2 linked regions of the Homo sapiens genome follow. The protein of the gene in region 1 interacts with the protein of each later gene in a biochemical or structural test. Each region holds a gene or a part of one and is shown on either strand. Other genes may lie near its edges.

Evidence for each region.
Region 2: the proteins of SYT9 (region 1) and TRPV1 form a complex in vitro, tested with the Homo sapiens proteins (one study listed by BioGRID).

What each region holds. Positions count from the first base shown.
Region 1 is NC_000011.10:7,246,885-7,255,362, forward strand, and holds the start of SYT9 (synaptotagmin-9), read left to right. Parts: upstream 1-5,019; 5' UTR 5,020-5,302; coding exon 5,303-5,447; intron 5,448-8,478. UniProt on the Homo sapiens protein: May be involved in Ca(2+)-dependent exocytosis of secretory vesicles through Ca(2+) and phospholipid binding to the C2 domain or may serve as Ca(2+) sensors in the process of vesicular trafficking and exocytosis.
Region 2 is NC_000017.11:3,585,313-3,592,851, reverse strand, and holds part of TRPV1 (transient receptor potential cation channel subfamily V member 1), read left to right. Parts: exon of another isoform or gene 1-468; 5' UTR 469-501; coding exon 502-785; intron 786-1,498; coding exon 1,499-1,665; intron 1,666-1,735; coding exon 1,736-1,888; intron 1,889-2,459; coding exon 2,460-2,600; intron 2,601-2,746; coding exon 2,747-3,045; intron 3,046-4,484; coding exon 4,485-4,664; intron 4,665-6,925; coding exon 6,926-7,084; intron 7,085-7,539.

The DNA.
Region 1 (8,478 bases):
GTCTTCCAGGGCTACTGTAACAAAATAGCATATACTGGGTGGCTTAAACAATAGAAATTTATTTTCTCACAGTCAGAAGTCTGGGAAGTCCAAGCTCAAGGTTGCAGCCAATTCCATTTCTAGTGAGGGCTTTCTTCCTGGCTTGCAGAGAGCTGCCTTCTCACTGTGTCCTCACATGGCAGAGAGAAAGCAAACTCTTTGATGACTCTTTTTAAAAATTATTTTTTATTTCTATAGGTTATTGGGGAACAGGTGGTGTTTGGTTACATGATTAAATTCTTTAGAGATGATTTGTGAGATATTGGTGCATCCATCACCCAAGCACTATACGCTGCACCCTATTTGAAGTCTTTTATCTCCTGCCCCCTTCCCACCCTTTCCCCTGAGTCCCCAAAGTCCATTGTGTCATTCTTATGTCTTTGCATCCTCACAGCTTAGCTCTGCTTGTGAGTGAGAACATAAGATGTTTGGTTTTCCATTCCTGAGTTACTCCACTTAGAATAATAGCCTCCAGTCTCATCCAGGTCACTATGAATGCCGTTAATTCATTCCTTTTTATGGCTGAGTAGTATTCCATCATATATATATACATATATATATACACACACATATATATACACATATATACATATATACACACATATATACATATATATACACGTATACATGTATATACACATATATACACATATACATATATATGTGTATATATACGTATATATACATATATACGTGTATATATACGTGTATATATACGTGATATATATATATACATATGTATATATACGTATATATGTGTGTATATATATATATATATCACAGTTTCTTTATCCACTCATTGATTGATGGACATTTGGGTCGGTTCTGTGTTTTTGCAATTGTGAATTGTGCTGCTATATACATACATGTGCAAGTATCTTTTTCGTATAATGACCTCTTTTGCTCTGGGTAGATACCCAGTAGTGGGACAGCTGCATCAAATGGTAGTTCTACTTTTAGTTCTTTAAGGCATCTCCACACTGTTTTCCATAGTGGTTGTACCAGTTTACATTCCCATCAGCAATGTAGAATTGTTCCTTGTTCACTGCATCCACACCAACATCTACTGTTTTTTGATTTTTTGATTATGGTCATTCTTGCAGGAGTAAGGTGGTATCGCATTGTGCTTTTGATTTCAATTTCCCTGTTCATTAGTATGTTGACCATTTTTTCATGTTTGTTGGCCATTTGTATATCTTCTTTTGAGAATTGTCTATCCATGTCCTTATCCCACTTTTTGATGGGATTGTTTGTTTTTTTCGTGTTGATTTGTTTGAGTTCGTTGTAGATTCTGGATATTAGTCCTTTGTCAGATGTATAGATTGTGAAGATTTTTCTCCCACTCTGTGAGTTGTCTGTTTACTCTGCTGTTTTTTTTTTCCTGTGCAAAAGCTCTTTAGTTTAATTAAGTCCCAGAAATGTATCTATCTTTGTTTTTATTGCATTTGTTTTTGGGTTCTTGGTCACGAAATCCTTGCCTAAGCCAATGTCTAGAAGAGTTTTTACAATGTTATCTTCCAGAATTTTTATAGTTTCAGCTCTTAGATTTAAGTCCTTAATCCATCTTGAGTTGATTTTTGTATAAGGTGAGAGATGAGGATCCAGTTTCATTCTCCTACATGTGGCTAGCCAATTATTGCAGCACCATTTGTTGAAAAGGGTGTCCTTTCCAAATAAAATACTTAGGAATATACCTAAACAAGGAGGTGAAAGACCTCTACAAGGAAGACTGCAAAACACTGCTGAAAGAGATCAGAGATGACACAAACAAATGGAAACATGTCCCATGCTCACAGATGGATAGAATTAATATTGTGAAAATGACTATACTGCCAAAAGCAATCTACAAATTCAACACAATTCCCATCAAAATACCACCATCATTCTTCATAAAATTACAAAAAACAATTCTAAAATTCATATGGAACCAAAAAAGAGCCCACATAGCCAAAGCAAGACTAAGCAAAAAGAGCAAATCTGGAGGCATCACATTACCTGATTTCAAACTATACTATAAGACCATAGTCACCAAAACAGCATGGTAGTTGTATAAAAATAGGTATACAGACCAATGGAACAGAATAGAGAACCCAGAAATAAACCCAAATACTTACAGCCAGCTGGTTTGATGATTCTTATAAGGAAACTAATCCTATTGGATCAGGGCTCTACCTTTATGACCTCATTTACTCTTAATTAAGTCCTATCTCCAAATACAGTGACATCGGGAATTAGGGCTTCAACATAAGAATTTACAGTTCACTCTATAGCAGTATCTCACTTCCCTTCTGTATGATATTCTTTCTCCACATTGTTTCTCATTCTTCTGGACCCCTCTCCAGCAAGATATCCTGTAAAAGTTGCAAGATCTTTTCAAGTCTAGACTCAGCTCAGAATTTCACTTCTACACATTCTGTTGAATAAAGTGAGTCACAAGGCAGGCCCAAATTCAAGCAGAGGGGAACAGACTTGACTTCTTGATGGGAAGAGTGGTAAAATCACACTCCAAAAGGACACATGGAATTGGAGGGATAGCTATGGCTGTCTTTGGAAACAGTCTACCAATTTGTCCTTGAACAAATTGTTTAACCACCTGATTTTACTTTCTTTGCCTGTAAAATAGGAAATATAGCATCAACCACTTTGGGATGTTGTAAGTAATAGATTAAGAAAGTGTGTTTAGCACCTCGTACATTGTAGTAGAAACATAACAGAAACAGCAAAAACACATATTGGTTGAGCCCATACTATGTGGCAGCACTATTACAAGCACTTAAATATATTGCTTTATGTAATCTTTGTAACAGCCCAAAGATACACGTTATCTTTGAGATAAGATGAGAAACCCTAGGCACAAAAATGTTAACTTGCACAAGGTTGGTTGCATAGTAACTAGTCTGTCTAAATCTTGAATGTCTTACTGTCTACTTTATCCAAAGGACACTTTTTAGTTTTTTCTCTTTAAACTATATTTGAAAGTTTACAGTTGATGTTGCTCGCTCCTCTACCAAACACTCCTCCTCCCGTGATCCCTATGACTCCCCTCTGTACAATCTTTCCTCCTGTTCTCATTGCTACCTTCCAATCTCCTCTTTCATTTCTTCAACTCTTCTTTCTTGAAGGAACCATCCCATGTGGCAACTCAGTTTCTACCTTTCCAATGATGATTGCCAGTCTTCACTCTCTCCTAAACTCTAGGCTTGCATTTCTAAGTGTTATTAGGGTGTGAGCACATATGACCCAGGTAACGTTTTGAAACGTTTGTGCCTTTCACTTCTTTCTTATTCCATTGGTTGCAATCTTGTCACTTAATACTTGAAATGTTTTTCAAATTTGGATGTTTCTAGCAATCAGCTAATGCCTTTGGCCTGGTTTAGGCCTTCATCATCTCTTGCCTGGTTTATCAAAGTCATTTTTTAACTGAACTTGTTGCTTTCAGTTCCTCTCTGACATGATGGCATTAGGGTAATATTTCCATGTGCTTCAACACACATACCTTCTCACCATTACTATATGTCCCCCCCGCCACCCCCCCCCAGCATCACACTATCTCTGGTGTCACCTTCTCTGTTCATGGCCTTTTTCTTCTTCTCTAGGGGTTCCCCCCTTTGAAGAAACAGCATCTGCTCAACCTCCCCTACAGGCTCCCTTAAAGCTGGTTTCTCCTCCCTCTGTTTGTCTCTTTGCAACTCTCTGGAGGCATCTTTACCTTTACAACTTTGCATTTTCTCTGCTATTCCCATGTAAGTTCCCTGAAACCCTAGTACCATTCACAGCAGGATTTCAAAGGTTGCCTGTTGCGTGAGCATTCTATAGGATCCCAAATTATCTTTCTGTGCAAATATGAATTGTTGTGATATGTCCGTAGAGACGGCACAACCTCATGGCTAAGAATGATAGTTACCAGTTCTAGAGATCCTACTCTAATTGCTCTAGAGTGGGGGCCTGAACACCAGTATTACAAAAAAGACAAAAGAAAAAGAAGGAAAAAAGAAAAAAGAAAGAGAGAAAATCAAAGCTACCTTCATCATGTATGAATTTGAGCAAGTAACACCTTTGTGAGTCCCCAGGCCCCAGTTTCTCATTGGTAAAATGAGGATAACAATTACACAGACCTTGTTGGGCTATGTACAGAATTAAATGAGATTATGTACCTAAAAGGCTTGTGGCACAGTGACACACACACACACACACACACACACACACACACCCAGAGTACTTCGTGGTTATTTCTAGGCTTTACTGCTTGAAAGGCTGAAAAGATGGGTGGATGAGAGGTGCCCTGAGGTTCCTTCCAACTCTCCAAGATTCTGTGATACTCCTCCTTGGGTGCTGAAGACACTTTGGCAATGTTTGGATTTCCAAACGGTTGCTTAGAAAACTAAGGGACCCACGAAGCCCAGGTAAGCCTCAGGGTCTTTCCCAGGAATCGTTTATTTATTTGATCTTAGTTCTGACCTAGAGCCTCCACCTTCTCCATCCAAATCACCACAGTGGTCGAAAAGGGCCTGTGCTTGGGAAATCCTTCCTTTGTTGGCGAATCTTGGACCCAAACCCTGCATTTGGGCATCTGACACCCATAGGCCCATGGTTCAAACCCAGGCGGCTCTTTCCAAGTTCGAAGCAGGGACTCGGTTCTGCGCATCTGGCGGGTGTGCCCAGATTGTAACCTTCGCACTAGGCATCCAAGAACGTGCTTTGGACACACTCGGCGGTGGGAGCGGGTGCTTGGTTTGCATCAGGGATGAGGGGTGGAGTAGCGAAAGCGCCCGGAGCGCGCACTCACTCACACTCCCCAAGCCAGGGCGCGGCCGCTCTGGGCGCGAGGTCCCAAGCCAAGTCTCGCGCTCGGCCAGGAGCCGGGGAGTACCCCAGGTCCCCGGTCTGGGGCCGCCGCTATCCTACCCTGCGGCGCGCACTCCTGACCTGGCCCCGCCCCCCGGCGGCCGCGAGTAGCGGGCGGAGCGCAAGCAGAGAGGCGCTCTGGGCTGTGCGGCACCGCCTCTCCTCGGTGTCTGGGGAGGGACGGAGGGACCGGGCGGGAGAGAGAGAAAGCCTGACCGACCGGCTGGCGAAGAGCTGCATGCAACCGGTGGGAGGCCGGGCCGGCTGGGTCTGGGGCTCGGGCTCAGGCTCGCACCGTTTCTCGGCAGGTCCCTGGCGGTGAGCGCGGACGGCCCGGAGGCGGCGGCTCTGAGCTGGCAGGCGGAGGGCTGTCTCCTGCGCCCGCCTGCCCGGCGCGGTCCGAGGATGCGGGGGGGCGATGCCCGGGGCCAGGGACGCGCTCTGTCACCAGGCGCTGCAGCTGCTGGCCGAGCTCTGTGCCCGTGGGGCCCTGGAGCACGACAGCTGCCAGGATTTCATTTACCACCTGCGGGACCGTGCCAGACCCCGGCTCCGCGACCCAGGTGAGTGCCGCCACCGCCGCCTGGAGGGACCTAAGGGCCCTGGGCTGGGACTTGGGGCCGCACCGGGGCCTGAGGCAGAACAGCGACGCGGACTGGGAGAGGGCGGGGGGCGGCCACCGAGCCAGGAGAGTGATCAAGAACCAGCGCACTGTGGCCTGATGCTGTAACCAGGCGGGGACCCGGGCGGTGGCTACTGCACGGAGGCCGACTCCGGGTCGGCTAGGGCAGGGTTGGAGGGACCACGCCCGCCACCTGCGCTCCCATCGCCAAGGCTCCTGGGGGCGGCTCCCTAGCTCCGAGCTACGCTCTCCACTTCCCGGGCTATCTGCACTCAGAGCGAGGGGAGGCCGCGGCGGCCTCGGAGCCGTGGGAAGGGGGACGAGGCCGAAGGAAACTCTGGGAAGTTGGGAGTTGGGGACGGCCCCGGGTTGGGGCCGAATCCCACCGGGTGCTGCTCATCCTTTCTCCCAAGCGTCTAGTTCCTTTCCTTGGTATGGGGTGAGAAGGGCGGGACGCGATCCGGCGTTGGGCCGGGGACAGGGTGCTTCTGGCCTTGGGCAGACGGGCCTGAACCCGTTCCCGGCGGGTCGCACGGCATGGAGGTGGCCTGGGCCTGGGCGCTAGGCTCGACCAGCGACTACCGCCGGCCACGATGGGGTTCGTAGACTCGTCGGTCCTGGCTTGTGCACCTGTAGTTACTCCTAGTGAAAGTTGCAAAGCTCTTAACTTTGGAAAGTTCATTTATTTTGGCATTTGACCAATTAAGGTTGGAGGAGGGAGTTTTAGTGGAGCCATTTGCTTTTCCTGAGGTCCCTGGGTCTCCCAGGTCGTCTCATCCGTTACTGGCTACTGGAAAATGCATTCCTTCCAATGTTTGCTTGAGATGTTTCTCACCTGGAGAAATAGTTTTCTCGAATATTCTCCCAACCTAAGTACTTACCAAAACAGCATATTGTGGTTGGATTGTTAAAAATGGGATGAGAAAATGGCCTTTCTCTTGATATTGCTATGTATAAATATTGGAAATGAGCTATTGCCTTGCAAATTATGATGTACGAATTGAAAACAATTTATTATATAAAAATCCATTTATCCAAAAGATAAATTAAAGAATTATTTGATTTATAAAGAGTGTCACACTGAGCCAGACTTAAATAGCATATCCTTGATATATTCAAGATGGTCGTGTGGGGTGAAGTCATCTGCTAAAATTTTAAAGTTTATATCAGATTTTCCCTACCAGAGGCTTTTTTTTCCTATTGAAAAAGAAAAAAATATTGTTTTCCATTGCCGGTGGTTATATTAACTAAGTTTATTGAATGATCATTGATATATTACTTCAAAGTGGATAATTGGGTAGAGAAATACTGATCCCAGTGGTTTCCAGGGAGGTTTAATGTCCAGCCTATGTGCATCTCATTGCTGGATGTGATGTGCTGAATAAACCACAGTCCCTTATCTCACAAGCTGGAGTCCCAGGAAGATGTCTTAAGTCGGGGAAGTTCGTCCTTAAGCAGCAGAAGCAAGACAATTATTTTGCATGCTTTGCCCAAAGCAAGTATTAGTATTGAAACATCTCACTTCCTTGCCTGTGACCAGACCACGAGTTCTCCTTGTTATCCCACATAAGCAGTTGTCTTTGGCTTTACAAGAGAAGATGGATGAGGCCTATCTCTGAATCACATCTTTTTGGCCAGTTTTCTGCTTCTACTCCTTTTAATCCGGGAGCTGGATCCTGTGTTCTCAGATTCTCTTCAGCCCCTACACCAGGCAACCCCTGAGAAAGAGTCACTAAGTAGGCTTCTTACAAGAGGAAATCTGATTCCTTGGCGGAGGAATAGCTAGAGATAGGAGTCGACCTTGCTGCTCTGAGTTCCTGATAGCAGTGCTCTGCTTTCTTAAACTAGGACACAAGGGTTTTGAAGTAGCCCCATGCCCCTGTGGCTCTTTGGTTTTTGTTGGAAAGTAGCCAGCTCATGAGGACAGGGGTGGGGGTTTTCGAGTGCAAGGTGAGAGGAAATGAGGCCAAAGATTACATCCAAAGTGCACCCTCTCCTTCAGGACACTTCTCCCTTCATTTCCAAATCTCCCTTCATTTCCCTCCTTCCTTGCCTTGCCGACATTAATTCTTACATCAGATGCATTTGTCTTCATCCCTCTGAAGCAAGAGTGTCTTTAATCTCGGAACCCTAAAAGCTGAGTAGTAGAAAAGCTGCACCACACAACGCCGTGTGAATAATGTCCCTGCTGTTGATAGTGTGAACCAGAACAACCATGCACAGCAGCCCTGAGACATGGGTTCCTAGAGAGAGTCATCTCGGTAAATGGATGACTTCTTTTTCTGGAAAGGAATCCACCTGAATGCCATGTCCCAGCTTTCTCTGTTATTGTCCATTCACGGCCACCCTGTGATAGCTAGGTTTTCTCAAGCTGAACTAAGGACTTTGGTTATAAAAGGAGAAAAAAGATATAATTTCCTGTGGACAGCAAAGTGACCCTGCATCTAGGAAATTTACTCATTTTTTCAGAGGTGTGGAAAGACTAGGGCACAGACCAGCGGGCCTGAGCCATCAGAAAGGTTCTTTTTTGTCCAGGTAGTTATAGTGCCCTGTTGGGGGAGTACCGCACCCAGATTTCCCTGACTTGGTGTTCACAGAGGACTTGATGCAATTGTGGTTTAAAAAAATAAGCCTAAGTCACAGTTGGAACTGAAGTGCCTCACCCAGTCTGTCATCTGTACCAACTTGTGGAAAGGAAAGTGCTGAGTGTGAGCACTTTTGTCCATAGAAAGCAATTAGAATGCTCTGTTGGTTGCCTTTATGGTGTTTTATATGTTAATGATGTGGGACATAAACTTGCAGGCCTCAGAGACTAGCCTTTAAGGCAGAGGGAACAGCAAGCGCAAAGGCCCTGAAGTGGTAGCATTATTGATATGATTCTAGAAATGGTGACTTCAGAGGTGGCTGGAGAGGTGTGAAACAGATGGAGAGTGATAAGACGTGTATGGTCAAGAGTTAGAGAGGGTGGATCA
Region 2 (7,539 bases), on another chromosome or scaffold:
CAGTCTGCTTGGCTCTTCTGGACTGAGCCATCCTCATCACCGAGATCCTCCCTGAATTCAGCCCACGACAGCCACCCCGGCCGTTTTCCTTGTTCTGTGTGGGGAGGGAGGCAGCGCGGTGGTTATCAACCTCACCCTGCAGAGGAGGCACCTGAGGCCCAGAGACGAGGAGGGATGGGTCTAACCCAGAACCACAGATGGCTCTGAGCCGGGGGCCTGTCCACCCTCCCAGGCCGACGTCAGTGGCCGCAGGACTGCCTGGGCCCTGCTAGGCCTGCTCACCTCTGAGGCCTCTGGGGTGAGAGGTTCAGTCCTGGAAACACTTCAGTTCTAGGGGGCTGGGGGCAGCAGCAAGTTGGAGTTTTGGGGTACCCTGCTTCACAGGGCCCTTGGCAAGGAGGGCAGGTGGGGTCTAAGGACAAGCAGTCCTTACTTTGGGAGTCAACCCCGGCGTGGTGGCTGCTGCAGGTTGCACACTGGGCCACAGAGGATCCAGCAAGGATGAAGAAATGGAGCAGCACAGACTTGGGGGCAGCTGCGGACCCACTCCAAAAGGACACCTGCCCAGACCCCCTGGATGGAGACCCTAACTCCAGGCCACCTCCAGCCAAGCCCCAGCTCTCCACGGCCAAGAGCCGCACCCGGCTCTTTGGGAAGGGTGACTCGGAGGAGGCTTTCCCGGTGGATTGCCCTCACGAGGAAGGTGAGCTGGACTCCTGCCCGACCATCACAGTCAGCCCTGTTATCACCATCCAGAGGCCAGGAGACGGCCCCACCGGTGCCAGGTAAGTCCGCGTCTGGAGCCCCCCTCCCTGCTGGGAGCCCAGCTGGCCATGGAGATGCCACAGGGTGGTCTGGCTTCTGGGCTAAATGTCACAAAGCCAGGGGGCTGGAGAGCCTTAGGGGTGGTCTGGTCCAGCGTCCTTCCTCATGTGACCTCGTGGGATGTGCAGTCACGGGGGCTGGTGTCTGTGCTGGGTCTAGGTGTCCACGCCCGCAATGCCTACCAGCCACAGACACTTGGACTTGAAGTCTAAAAGCTCAAGGGCAGGAGGCTTTTGGAGAGCACAGCACAGCTCCAGTGAGCTGCAAGGCAGGGCAGGGAGGGCCACAGGCTGGCTGACTTCTGGGGAGTGTGAGGCCACCTTTTCCCTTAGAGGGGCTGTCTACACCCCTGCCTCCACCTCCCTCCGTCCCCACCAGGCTCCTGCCTCCCGAGCTCCCGAGCAGGCAGAGAAGCCAGTGGTCTGGGAGTAGGAGGGTGACTTTCTAGATGGTGTCTATAGACAGGGTGGGGACAGAATGGGGACACATGCCCTCCACTGTCCCTGTTACATTGCTTTTCTGGACAGTCACCTAGACTGAGGGGCAGCTTTTATATCATTTTTCCCCTTTTTGGTTTGCCTTGGGATTTAGTCGTGTTCCCTTGACAAGCTCCGAAGGCCTCAGGGCCGAGGGGAGGCCAGGGTATGAGACGAGCGTGTTTTCTGGCCCACAGGCTGCTGTCCCAGGACTCTGTCGCCGCCAGCACCGAGAAGACCCTCAGGCTCTATGATCGCAGGAGTATCTTTGAAGCCGTTGCTCAGAATAACTGCCAGGATCTGGAGAGCCTGCTGCTCTTCCTGCAGAAGAGCAAGAAGCACCTCACAGACAACGAGTTCAAAGGTGGCCCCAGCGCTGGGCTCGGGGAGGGCCCCAGCCCTGGCCTGCCCTGACCCTCCCTTATGTCTTTCAGACCCTGAGACAGGGAAGACCTGTCTGCTGAAAGCCATGCTCAACCTGCACGACGGACAGAACACCACCATCCCCCTGCTCCTGGAGATCGCGCGGCAAACGGACAGCCTGAAGGAGCTTGTCAACGCCAGCTACACGGACAGCTACTACAAGGGTGAGGAGGGCGGCGGGGCCGGGCATGGCTCAGCCCGCAGCACCGGGAAGCAGGGGGGCATGGTTGTCCCTGGGCCTCCTTGCTTCTCTGGGATCCTTACTCCCTGTCCCAGCCACTGCGTTGGTGGCTCCTAATCCTAGGGGGTCCCTGCCTCTCCCATCTGCTGGCTTGATTTCTCCTGGTCCTGGGGGTCTCTGCCTCCCCGATCTGATGTCTCCTCTCTTGACCCTGAGAAGTCCCTGCCTCCCCCTGCTGACTGGATGGTCCCTGTCCCTGGAAGTCACAGCCTCTGGCCTTTCTCTCTGCTGCTGTTCCTTGCCCCCGGGGCAATTTTGACTCCTCTGGCTTCCAACCCGTTATTTCCTGTTCCCAGGGGTCTCCTGTCTCAGGACCTTGCTGGGACCCCTTGGGGGACCCTGGCCTGGCCTCCTGCAGTGGGGGGGTCCTCCAGGCACTTTCTGCCCAGTTCCTCCTGCAGCAGCTGCTGCCTGCCCAGAGCCCTTCCCCAGCACCTGTCCCGGCAGCCCCACAGGACCGTGACCACGAAGCCAACCGTGCGCGTCCTCTGTAGGCCAGACAGCACTGCACATCGCCATCGAGAGACGCAACATGGCCCTGGTGACCCTCCTGGTGGAGAACGGAGCAGACGTCCAGGCTGCGGCCCATGGGGACTTCTTTAAGAAAACCAAAGGGCGGCCTGGATTCTACTTCGGTAGGGAGACAGTGTGGCAGACCCTGATCTTTTTGGCTTTTGCTAAGGGGAGGTTTGGGCAGAGACAGAGGGAGTTTGGAGGCCGGTGGTTCAGGGGCCAGCTGGATCTCACTCCTGAGGCCCACCTGGGCCCTGTGTTCATGCAGGTGAACTGCCCCTGTCCCTGGCCGCGTGCACCAACCAGCTGGGCATCGTGAAGTTCCTGCTGCAGAACTCCTGGCAGACGGCCGACATCAGCGCCAGGGACTCGGTGGGCAACACGGTGCTGCACGCCCTGGTGGAGGTGGCCGACAACACGGCCGACAACACGAAGTTTGTGACGAGCATGTACAATGAGATTCTGATGCTGGGGGCCAAACTGCACCCGACGCTGAAGCTGGAGGAGCTCACCAACAAGAAGGGAATGACGCCGCTGGCTCTGGCAGCTGGGACCGGGAAGATCGGGGTAAGAGGGGGCTTCGGCTCAGGCTGGTGCGGTGCGGGGCTGATGGCATGGGAGAGGACTGCCTGACTCACTGCGGGAGCCTGGCGTCGCTATCTGTGTGTGCGGGACTCTGATTCTGTCATACCAGCCTGTAGGGCTGTTAGAATAAGTCTGAGAAATTGGGAGCCACAGGGCAGAACCCTGCAATGGCCAACGTGCCATTTTGAATTTCCAGCTCTGAGTATCAGCAACAAGACATGGGGTGGGGTAGGGTGCTGGGCAATGGAGGAGGGACTGCCTAGGGTGGAACAGAAGAATAGCTGTTGGGCTGGGCACGGTGACTCACTCTTGTAATCCCAGCATTTTGGGAGGCCGACGTGGGTGGATCACCTGAGGTTAGGAGTTCGAGACCAGCCTGACCAACCTGGTGAAACCTCTACTAAATATACAAAAATTAGCCAGGCATGGTGGCAGGTGCCTACAATTCCAGCTACTCAGGAGGCTGAGGCACAAACATCACTTGAACTTGGGAGGCGGAGGTGGCAGTGAGCCAAGATTTTGCCACCGCACTCTAGCCTGTGTGACAGAGCAAGACTCTGTCTCAAAAAAAAAAAAAAAGGAAAAAGAAAAAAGCTGTTGGTGTTTTTCCATGGCAGGCAGGAGCATGGCAGGCAGGAGCTTTAGGTAACAAGGCTGATGGCTCCAGCTCCCAGCTCCAGCTGGTGGCTCCTGGTGACAGGCCTCCAGCTCTTGGCCTCAAGTGATCCTTCCACCTCAGCCTCCCAAGTAGCTGGGATTACAGGCATGAGCCACCCCATCTGGCTCTCATTTCTTGCATTCTCTTTCTTTCTTTCTGGCTTGAGGTTATCGAGAATGGACCACCGCTGTCCTTCATGGTGAGATGGTAGAGCTGGGGCCTCGCCGTGAGGGGATTGTGGGCCTGATATGGTGCAGGTAGTATCTGAGGCAGCTGGCTGGTTGACGTTTGTGTGTTTTGTTTTTTTTTTTTTTTTTAGATGAGGTTTCGCTCTTGTTGCCCAGGCTGGAGAGCAGTGGCACAATCTCGGCTCACTGCAACCTCTGCCTATCAGGTTCAAGTGATTCTCCTGTCTCGGCCTCTCAAGTAGCCGGGATTACAGGAACACGCCACCATGCCCGGCTAATTTTTTTTTTGTATTTTCAGTAAAAACAGGATTTTGCCATGTTGGCCAGGCTGGTCTCAAAATCCTGACCTCAGGTGATCCACCCGCCTCAGCCTCCCAAAGTGCTGGGATTACAGGCATGAGCCACCCGTGCCCGGCCGGCTGGTTGATCTCAGTGGTGGTCAGGAGTGGGTGGGGACTCGCCTGGGGCTTAGGTGGGGCCACCAGCTGGGCTGGGAAGCAGAGCTGGTTGTTGAGGTACTGTCTGAGGCTGAGCCTGGGGCTGGCCTCTGACGGGCTCTTGCTCCCCGGGGGCAGGTCTTGGCCTATATTCTCCAGCGGGAGATCCAGGAGCCCGAGTGCAGGCACCTGTCCAGGAAGTTCACCGAGTGGGCCTACGGGCCCGTGCACTCCTCGCTGTACGACCTGTCCTGCATCGACACCTGCGAGAAGAACTCGGTGCTGGAGGTGATCGCCTACAGCAGCAGCGAGACCCCTGTGAGTGGCTGGGGCACAGCCAGGGAGGGCCTCAGGGCCTCTGCACCCAAGCCCCAATCCCAGCCCCTGGTCCAGCTCCAGCTGGCTTCTCAGGAGGGAAAGCCTGCTGCGCCCGGGCCCAGGCCCTGCAGCCTCACGTTCCCCACTCATGCCCACTGAATTTTCCCTAAGCATAGCAACCATACGTGATTATCATCCCATAAAAACAGAAACGTTTCAGAGGGACATGGACAAAAGGACCCTCCTTTTATACTATTTAAAAATGCACAGTTTCATTTTGTTTACATAAATGAGATCAGACTATACACAATGTACAACAACCTTTTTTTTTTTTCACTTGATGGCAGGGCGTGTAGATTTTTCTTTTTTTTTTTGAGACGAAGTTTTGCTCTTGTTACCCAGGCTGGAGTGAAATGGTGCCATCCCGGCTCACTGCAACCTCTATCTCCCGGGTTCAAGCGATTCTCCTCGAATCCGAAGTAGCTGGGATTACAGGCATGCGCCACCAGGCCCTGCTAATTTTTTGTATTTAATAGAGACAGGATTTCTCCATGTTGGTCAGGGTGGTCTCGAACTCTTGACCTCAGGTGATCCGCCCTCCTTGGCTTCCCAAAGTGCTGGGATCACAGGTGTGAACCACTGCGCCAGGCCAAGAACTTATTTTTGTGTAGGTGTGAAGTAGGCATCTTACTTAAATATTTTGGCTCCAAATGAATGTCTTAGTGTTACGTAGTGAGTAATCCATCCTGCCACGCTGTTTGGAAAGGCCACCTTATCTGTCCCTTCTTTCTAAGGTGATGCTCTGAGCTCCTAAGGCAGACTTGGGGGCTAGAGTCTGTGCCATCAGCAGTGAGGGGCTTCCACGACATCTCACAGGTCAGAGGTTGCGTTTACAGGAGCAGAGTCCGGGGCTGGGAAAGGCCTGGTCTGCTCTGCCTCCCCTGGGCTGCCATGCTGAACCTGGGCCTCCAACTCAGAGTGCTGGATACAAGTGTTCCCAGAGGAGAGGTCCAGATAGGAGGTGGCCTCAACAAGGACTGCAGTATTTGACCTGGGGGAGAGGCTCTGGGACCACCACTGACATCTTCATGTCTCTAAAGGCTCTCAGGGACAAGGAGTGTGGACTTGTCCTGGGGACCCTAGGGCAGAGCCAGGACCACTAGTGGAAAGTAGAGAAGACCAAAGAAGAGGTATTCCCTACAGGCAGTGAGTCTCCATAGGCCTCTTGAGGCAGTAAGGAGTTTCCCATTCCCAAAGGCATTCAAGAAGACACTGATCAGGAACCTCTTTGAGGGAGCTTAAGTTTGGGGTGGGGGTTGGACTCGATGGCCTGAGGGAGGCTGGGATGATCTGATTTTGGCTCATCAGTCTCAGGGATACTTGAACTTATTTTTATTTTATTTTATTTTATATTTTGAGACAGAGTCTTGCTCTGTCACCCAGGTTGGAGTGCAATGGCGTGATCTCAGCTCACTGCAACTTCTGCTTCCTGGGGTTCAAGCAGTTCTCCCACCTCAGCCTCCCAAGTAGCTGGGATTACAGGCACCCACCACCATGCCTGGCTAATTTTTGTATTTTTGTAGAGAAGGAGTTTCACCACGTTGGCCAAGCTGGTCTTGAACTCCAGACTTCAAGTGATCCACCTGCCTCGGCCTCCCAGAGTGCTGGGATTACAGGCGTGAGCCACTACACCCGGCCTATTTGAACTTTATCAAAGTCTCTGGATATGAGACATTTGCCCCAAAGCATACTTGTAATGATGGCATGAGGCACTGGGCCCTCCTGGGGCAGGAAGGGCCTCCTAGTTCCCTGCCTCCCTGCCGCCCTGCCTGACCCAGGGCTGGAAACGTGAGAAGTGAGGACCCAGAGGCTCTTTCCTGCCTGCCCTGAGCCCCTCATGCCCAGGCTCTGCCTAAGCCAACTACTTCCCATTACTGTGGGCTCTCGGGAGGGAGTTATTAGACACAACGGGCAGTGCGGTGGGCCATTAAGTGAGCACTTAAGAGCTTGTCCAGTTTCACCCCATTCACTGCACCTCTGGGGACACTGAGGCCAAGAGGGCAGGTCCCTCCGTGAGCCGCGGCAGTGCTGGGACCAGCCCCAGGCTATGGCTGCCGGCTGGCTCAGACCTCCCATCTCACCTGCTCCGTGGGCTGAGGACTGTGCGGGCCACATGGCTGTGAGGGGCACCACGGGCTGGTGTGGGCGTGCGAGGAGTTCCTGCTGCAGGAGGGAACCTCACTTCTCTCCCCACCCCCTAGAATCGCCACGACATGCTCTTGGTGGAGCCGCTGAACCGACTCCTGCAGGACAAGTGGGACAGATTCGTCAAGCGCATCTTCTACTTCAACTTCCTGGTCTACTGCCTGTACATGATCATCTTCACCATGGCTGCCTACTACAGGCCCGTGGATGGCTTGGTGCGGCCAGAGGCTCAGGCCTCGTGGGCGAGGGTGTGGGTGGTGGGGAAGGGGTGTGGACATTTCGGGAGACCTCCCCGACCCCAGGCCCAGGCTCTGCCCTGGACTCCTTCCCAGCTTGCGGGAGCGATGGATGGAGAACGTGGAGAACCTCGTATCCCTGCGCCCATCTCCCCTGCCTCAGGCTGTACAGGAGACCCGCCCCCTTCCCGCTTCTCAGTTCCTCTCCTTTAACCTTGAGGTCCTGTGGGGCTGAGTGTGTGGTGACTCAGGTCCCTGATTGTAGACGGGGTGTACTCGGTTAGAAAGCATGCAGGGGCCGGGCATGGTGGCTCATGCCTGTAATCCCAGCACTTTGGGAGGCTGAGGTGGGCAGATCACCTGAGGTCTGGAGTTTGAGACCAGCCTGACCAACATGGTGAAACCCCGTCTCTACTAAAAACACCAAATTAACT